Homo sapiens: one gene and its partner. The protein of the gene in region 1 interacts with the protein of each later gene in a pairwise test. Each region holds a gene or a part of one and is shown on either strand. Other genes may lie near its edges. The genes, in order: FBXL12 and FBF1.

What was found.
Region 2: the proteins of FBXL12 (region 1) and FBF1 interact in a two-hybrid assay, tested with the Homo sapiens proteins (one large-scale study listed by BioGRID and IntAct).

Annotation. Positions count from the first base shown.
Region 1 is NC_000019.10:9,812,773-9,816,242, reverse strand, and holds part of FBXL12 (F-box/LRR-repeat protein 12), read left to right. Parts: exon of another isoform or gene 1-2,072; coding exon of another isoform or gene 2,073-2,105; intron 2,106-2,968; exon of another isoform or gene 2,969-3,012; intron 3,013-3,470. UniProt on the Homo sapiens protein: Substrate-recognition component of the SCF (SKP1-CUL1-F-box protein)-type E3 ubiquitin ligase complex.
Region 2 is NC_000017.11:75,909,999-75,913,813, reverse strand, and holds part of FBF1 (fas-binding factor 1), read left to right. Parts: coding exon 1-112; intron 113-1,506; coding exon 1,507-1,622; intron 1,623-3,007; coding exon 3,008-3,091; 3' UTR 3,092-3,815. UniProt on the Homo sapiens protein: Keratin-binding protein required for epithelial cell polarization. Involved in apical junction complex (AJC) assembly via its interaction with PARD3. Required for ciliogenesis.

The DNA of each region.
Region 1 (3,470 bases):
TAATTAGGACCATGGGGAAAATGTCTCCAGGCCATGTCAGAGACCTTCACGGCAGCCCCTCCCATCTCAGGCCTGGAAGCCCAGGAGGAAAAAGTGGTTTCCTGGGGGCCCAGGGTCCCTGTGCTATGTTCACCCTGGGACTTGGTGTCCTGTGCCCTAGCTGCTCCAGCTGTAGCTGAAAGGGGCCAACGTATAACTCGGGCTGTGGCTTCAGAGGGTGGAAGCCCCAAGTCTTGGCAGCTTCCACATGGTCTTGAGCCTGCTGGTGCACAGAAGCCAAGAACTGAGGTTCAGGGCCAGGCACAGTGGCTCACGCCTATAATCCCAGCACTTTGGGAGGCCAAGGCAGGCGGATCACTTGAGGTCAGGAGTTCAAGACCAGCCTGGCCAACATGGTGAAACCCCATCTCTACTAAAAATACAACAAATGCGTGGTGGCGCATGCTTGTAATCCCAGCTACTCGGGAGGCTGAGGCAGGAGAATCGCTTGAACCCGGGAGGCAAAGGTTGCAGTGACTCAAGATCGTGCCATTGCATTCCAGCCTGGGTGACAAGAGCGAAACTCCATCTCAAAAAAAAAAAAAAAGAATTGAAGTTTAGGAACCTCTGCCTAGATTTCAGAAGATGTGTGGAAATGCCTGGATGTCCAGGCAAAAGTTTGCTACAGGGGTGGGGCCCTCATGGAGAACCTCTGCTAGGGCAGTGTGGAAGGGAAATGTGGGGTCAGAGCCCCCACACAGAGTCCCTATTGGGTCACTGCCTAGTGGAGCTGTGAGAAGAGGGCCACTGTTCTCCAGACTCCAGAATGGTAGATCCACCCACAGCTTGCACCATGCACCTGGAAAAGCTTCAGACACTCAACACCAGCCTGTGAAAGCAGCTGGGAGGGAGGCTGTACCCTGTAAAGCCACAAGGGGCGGAGCTGGCCAAGACCATGGGAACCCACCTCTTGCATCAGTGTGACCTGGTTGTGAGACCTGGAATCAAAGGAGATAATTTTGGAGCTTTAAAATTTGACTGCCCCACTGGATTTCAGACTTGCATGGGCCCTGTAACCCCTTTGTTTTGGCCAATTTCTCCCATTTGGAATGGCTGCATTTACCCAATACCTGTACTCACATTGTATCTAGGAAGTAACTAGCTAGCTTTTGATTTTATAGGCTCATAGGTGGAAGGGACTTGCCTTGTCTCAGATGAGACTTTGGACTGTGGACTTTTGGGTTAATGCTGAAATGAGTTAAGACTTTGGAAGACTGTTGGGAAGCCATGATTGGTTGTGAAATGTGAAGACATGAGACTTGGAGGGGCCGGGGTGGAATGATATAGTTTGGCTGTGTCCCCACCCAAATCTCAACTTGAATTGTATTTCCCAGAATTCCCATGTGTTGTGAGAGGGACCCAGGGGAAATAATTGAATCTTGGGGGCTGGTCTTTCCCATGCTATTCTCGTGATAGTGAATAAATCTCAAGAGATCTGATGGGTTTATCAGGGGTTTCCATTTTTGCTTTGTTCTCGTTTTCTTAATTTTTTTTTTTTTTTTTTTTTTGAGATGGAGTCTTGCTCTGTTGCCAGGCTGGAGTGCAGTGGTATGATCTCAGCTCACTGCAACCTCTGCCTCCTGGGTTCAAGTGATTCCCCTGCCTCAGCCTCCTGAGAAGCTGGGACTACAGGCACGTGCCACCACACTGAGCTAATTTTTTGTATTTTTTAAATTAATTTATTTATTTTTCTTTGAGTCGGAGTCTTGTTCTGCCACCAGGCTGGAGTGCAGTGGTGCGATCTCAGTTCACTGGAACCTCTGCCTCCCGTGTTCAAGCGATTCTCCTACCTCAGCCTCCTTAGTAGCTGGGACTACAGGCATGCACCACCACACTCGGCTAATTTTTTTTTGTATTTTAGTAGAAACGGGGTTTTGTCATGTTGGCCAGGATGGTCTCAATCTCCTGACCTCGTGATCCGCCCGCATCGGCCTTCCAAAGTGCTGGGATTATGGGCATGAGCCACTGCGCCCGGGCTTCTTTCTCATTTTCTCTTGCTGCCGCCATGTAAGAAGTGCCTTTCACCTCCTGCCATGATTTTGAGGCCTCCCCAGCCATGTGGAACTGTAAGTCCAATTAAACCTCTTTTTCTTCCCAGTCTCAGGTATGTTTTTATCAGCAGCATGAAAATAGACTAATACAGTTTGTATTACATGGGTATATATATGCATGTATAAAAGGCAAATGTAAGCATGCTTTCTGAAGGATTGATGATAAGCTATTTTCTTCAGTGAATGGAAGAGTTTGATGTAGAAACACCTTTTTGGCCGGGTGCAGTGGCTCATGCCTGTAATCCCAGCACTTTGGGAGGCCGAGGTGGACAGATCACTTGAGGTCGGGTGTTTGAGACCAGCCTGACCTACATGGAGAAACCCTGTCTCTACTAAAAATACAAAATTAAGGCCAGGCGCGTGGCTCATGCCTGTAATCCCAGCACCTTGGGAGGCCAAGGTGGTTGGATCACGAGGTCAGGAGATTGAGACCATCCTGGCTAACATGGTGAAACCGCGTCTCTACTAAAAATACAAAAAAAACATAGCCGGGCATGGTGGCATACGCCTGTAGTACCAGCTACTTGGGAGGCTGAAGCAGGAGAATTGCTTGAACCTGGGAGGTGGAGATTGCAGTGAGCCGAGATTGCGCTACTGCACTCCAGCCTGGGCAACAGAGCGAGACTCTGTCTCAAAAAAAAAAAAAAAAATTAGCCGGGCATGGTGGCACATGCCTGTAATCCCAGCTACTCAGGAGGCTAAGGCACGAGAATCGCTTGAACCCAGGAGGCGGAGGTTGCGGTGACTGAGATCGTGCCATTGCACTCCAGCCTGGGCAACAAGCAAAACTCCGTCTCAAAAAAAAAGAAAAGAAAAGAAACACCTTTGTAAGCACACATAAAGAATATGTTATTAGACAATTTTCCTTTTTCCATTAGGCCCTATGATGCCAAGTAGAGAAATCCAGCAATAAAAGGCAGATGTAAGCATGCTAACTTTTTCTTTTTAAGATAAACTGTACTTAGAATGAAATGCCCAGTGCTATCAATTATATATATTTTTTATTTTCTACTAAGTCTAACTTCCCAGGGTTGATTTTTGCAGCTTCCACTCTACCAGGCTTTGATATATTTTTTTTTTTGACATGGAGTTTCGCTCTTGTTGCCCAGGCTGGTGCAACGGCACGATCTTGGCTCATCGCAGCCTCTGCTTCCCAGGTTCAAGTGATTCTCCTGCCTCAGCCTCCCAAGTAGCTGGGATTACAGGCGTGCACCACCACACCTGGCTAATTTTGTATTTTTAGTAGAGACGGGGTTTCTCCATGTTGGTCAGGCTGGTCTTGAACTCCTGACCTCAGGTGATCTGCCCGCCTTGGCCTCCCAAAGTGCTGGGATTACAGGTGTGAGCCACCGTGCCCAGCCTTTTCATTTGTTGTTTTTT
Region 2 (3,815 bases), on another chromosome or scaffold:
CTGAGTCTGGCCCAGCAGAGGCTGCAACTGGACCGCGCACGACAGGACCTGCCCTCTAGCCTCGTGGGTCTGTTCCCCAGGGCCCAGGGCCCTGCAGCCTCCAGCCAGAGTGGTGAGTGGCTCCAGAAGGAAGGGCCGGCGGCTCAGGACTGGGCAGGGGCAGTGCTAGGAGTGGGCAGGCCCTCCTCCAGCCGCTCCAGTTAAGGCGGCCAGCTGGGTTTTATAGTCGCCTTATTTCTTTTTTACACAAATAATGTGTGTTAATTTTAGATAAATCAGAAATAGAGGAACACTATTATGAAAAATGTCACCTTTTTGTAACTCTGGACTCAGGAAAAAAAAAGGAAATAAAAAAAGTCATTGTCAGGCTGGGCGTGGTGGCTCACGCCTATAATCTCAGCACTTTCGGCAGCCGAGGCAGGCGGATCATCTGAGGTCAGGAGTTCAAGACCAGCCTGGCCAACATAATGAAACCCCGTCTCTGCTAAAAATACAAAATTAGCCGGGTGTGGTGGCAGGTGCCCGTAATCCCAGCTACTCAGGAGGCTGAGGCAGGAGAGTCACTCGAACCCGAGAAGTGGAGGTTGCAGTAAGCCGAGATTGTGCCACTGCACTCCAGCCTAGGGGACAGAGCAAGACTCCGTTTAAAAAAAAAAAAAAAAAAAAAAAGTCACCCTCAACGCCACTCCTGAGTCTTGAGAGAACCACTTTTCACTTTTAACATTTTGGTGCATAATGTTCCACTCTGGTACTTTTTTTTTCTTTTCTTTTTTGAGATGGAGTTTCACTCTTGTCACCCAGGCTGGAGTGCAGTGGCATGATCTCGGCTTAGTGCAACCTCCACCTCCTGAGTTCACGCGATTCTCTTACCTCAGCCTCCCAAGTAGCTGCGATTACAGGCATGTGCTACCATGCCTGGCTAATTCTGTATTTTTAGCAGAGATAGGGTTTTGCCATGTTGGCCGGGCTGGTCTTGAACTCCTGACCTCAGGTGATCCACCCGCCTTGGCCTCCCAAAGTGCTGGGATTACAGGCATGAGCCAACGCGCCCAGCCTGGTACATGTTTTTAAAAACAAAATTAGGATTGTATGTGTTTTTCAATAACTTTACTTTTTTTACTCAGTAATGTACACGTGGAACAGGTTTTCAGATCAGTCATTAAACATTTAGTCAATTCCCAATCAGCACAGTTTTCCACTGTGAGGCTGCTCTGTGCTGAGTGATTTGTTGTCTTAAAGAGAAAGACTACCCAGTGGACATCTTCCTACATATGTGTTTGTACCTTTGCCTGATTATTTCACTGGAATAAATTCCTATAAATGGTCTTTCCAGGTAGGAGCAGGTATGCATTTGCCAGAGGCTTCTGAGAGTTAGTGCCATTGCACCCTGAGTATATGGCCAGGGTCCACCCACTGGCGGGGGGAGCAGCTCTGCAGGAACAAGCTGTGACCGCCCGGTATTTCCACCAACACTTTGGTCCCTGACTTCCTCCTTGGCCTTTTCAGCCCTCATGCCTCCTGCTCCCACCACCCGTTGGTGCAGCCAGCCGCCAACTGGCCTGGACCCCAGCCCCTTGCACCTCCATGCCAGGCTGGCACTGCTGAGGCACATGGCAGAGCAGGTGAGTCTCTCCTGGCCTTGGGGATCCTTGTGTTCACGAGTCCTTCCAGCTCAGGGCAGAGGCAGGGAGGAGCACATGGTAGCCCTGGGGAGGGGTGACCCCAGCTCCTGGGGAGTAAAACTGCAGTTTGCTTAGTGAGCCAATGCTCAGACTTCCACACTAGGCCAGGTTCTGTGCAAAGCAATTTGCATATGTCATCTCAGTTAAACCTCATGATAACCTATAGCAATAATGATAACAGGCTGGGCACAGTGGCTCACACCTGTAATCCCAACACTTTGGGAGGTTGAAGCAGGAGGATCACTTGAGCCCAGGAGTTTGAGACCAGCCTGGGCAATATGTTGAGACACCGTCTCTACAAAATGAAAAACTAAAAAAAGAGGACCAGGTGCGTGGCTCACACCTGTAATCCCAGCACTTTGGGAGGCTATGGTGGGAGGATTACTTGAGCCCAGGAGTTCGTGGCCAGCTTGGGCAACATAGTGAGACCTCGTCTCCACAAAAAAATAGCTGAGCGTGGTGGCATACACCTGTACTCCCAGCTACTCCGGAGGCTGAGGTAAGAGGATCACTTAAGCCCGGGAGGTCGAGGCTGCAGTGAGCCACAACGGTGCCACTGCACTCCAGGCAACAGAGCGAGACTCTGTCTCAAAAAAATAAATATTAAAAATTTAAAAATTAGCTGGGCATGGTGGGGCATATCTATAGTCCCAGCTACTTGGGAGGCTGAGGTGGGAGGATTGCTTGAGCCCAGCTGGTCGAGGCTACAGGTGTGTTCACACCACTGCACTTCAGCTTGGGTGACAGAGCAAGGCACTTGTCTCAAACTAAACAAAACAAAACTATAATGATAACAGTTGTCATTATGGAGCATTTCCTGTGTGCCAACCTCAATGCCGAAGGCTTTGTTTATATTTTACTTATTTATTTATATTTAGAAATGGGGTCTCACGATGTTGCCTCGGCTGGTCTCAAAGTCCTGGGCTCAAGTGATCCTACCCCCTTGGCCTGCGGATTAGCTAGGATTACAGGCATGAGCCACTGTGCCTGGCCTGCTTTGTGTATTTTTTAAGCTTTTACCCTCACACAGCCCTGCAAGGAAGGGCTACAAGGAATGTTTACAGACAAGGAAACTGAGGCTTAGAGACATGAAGTCATGTGCTCGTAAGTTCCACAGCAAACAAGTAACCTTGCCAGGATTGAGACTGTGGTCTGTCTCACTCCATACCTGGGCTCTTTCATGGCCCCTGCTGACTCCCAGAGCCAGGCAGAGTCAGGGACGATGTGGGGAGGGGCCTCAGTGACGGCTGGCTCAGCTAGCATCCAGGGCTCCACCTCCCTCTCAGCTCAGGGAAGGTGACCGCCCATCCAAACCTGCCTTGCAGGACCGTGACTTCTTGGAGAATGAACAGTTCTTCCTGGAGACCCTGAAGAAAGGGTCCTACAATTTGACATCTCATTCAGCCTGAGTGGGACCCCAGCCGATTCCCCAACAGAGGGTTCGGACCCCAGAACTGTCCTGTTCCTCCGGCTGCCTCCATGGAGGCAGTGCCTGGGGAGGATTCTGAGATGCTTGAGGCCTGATGACAGCTCTTCCGTGGACAGGGTGCAAGTGCATCCTTTCCAAATGTGCCAGCCCGGGGCAGCCCCTGCCTCTGGGGCTCTGTGGTGTAGGCTATCTTACCATGGCTTTGGCTGCCCTGCCCCAAAGCCATTGGCTTGGATCTGAGGGTCTGAGTTGGCAGCAAGGACCCCCAGCTCTCACTGGGCTCTGTGGGCTCCCCCTGGGCTCTGTGGGCTCCCCCTGCTCCACAGGTAGACTGTTGTGGGCTCTTTTTGCCTGGGCCTCTTCTGAGGCAGGAGCTTTCTTGAGGGATGCCACAAACAGCCTTCCCTACTCCCTGCCAGAGCAGTTCCCTCCCTGATGAGCTGGAGAAGGGCCCTCTGGCCTCCTGACAGTACAGGGAGGGCACCAGCTAGATCCTCCCTTGTGGTGTGAGATGTTCCTGGAACTCAGCCAGGCCCTCCTCCTCCTGGGCTTGCCCAGAGCCCCCACCCTATTCCCAGCATTGCCCGAAGGACCAACCAGTTTGGGTGAACAGTGGCCTCCTCAGCTTCCTCCCCATCTGGGTGCCCCACCGGCGGCGGAGGGAGCTGTGGCGATGGTGGGGTGTGGGGAGGGACGAGGAGGGA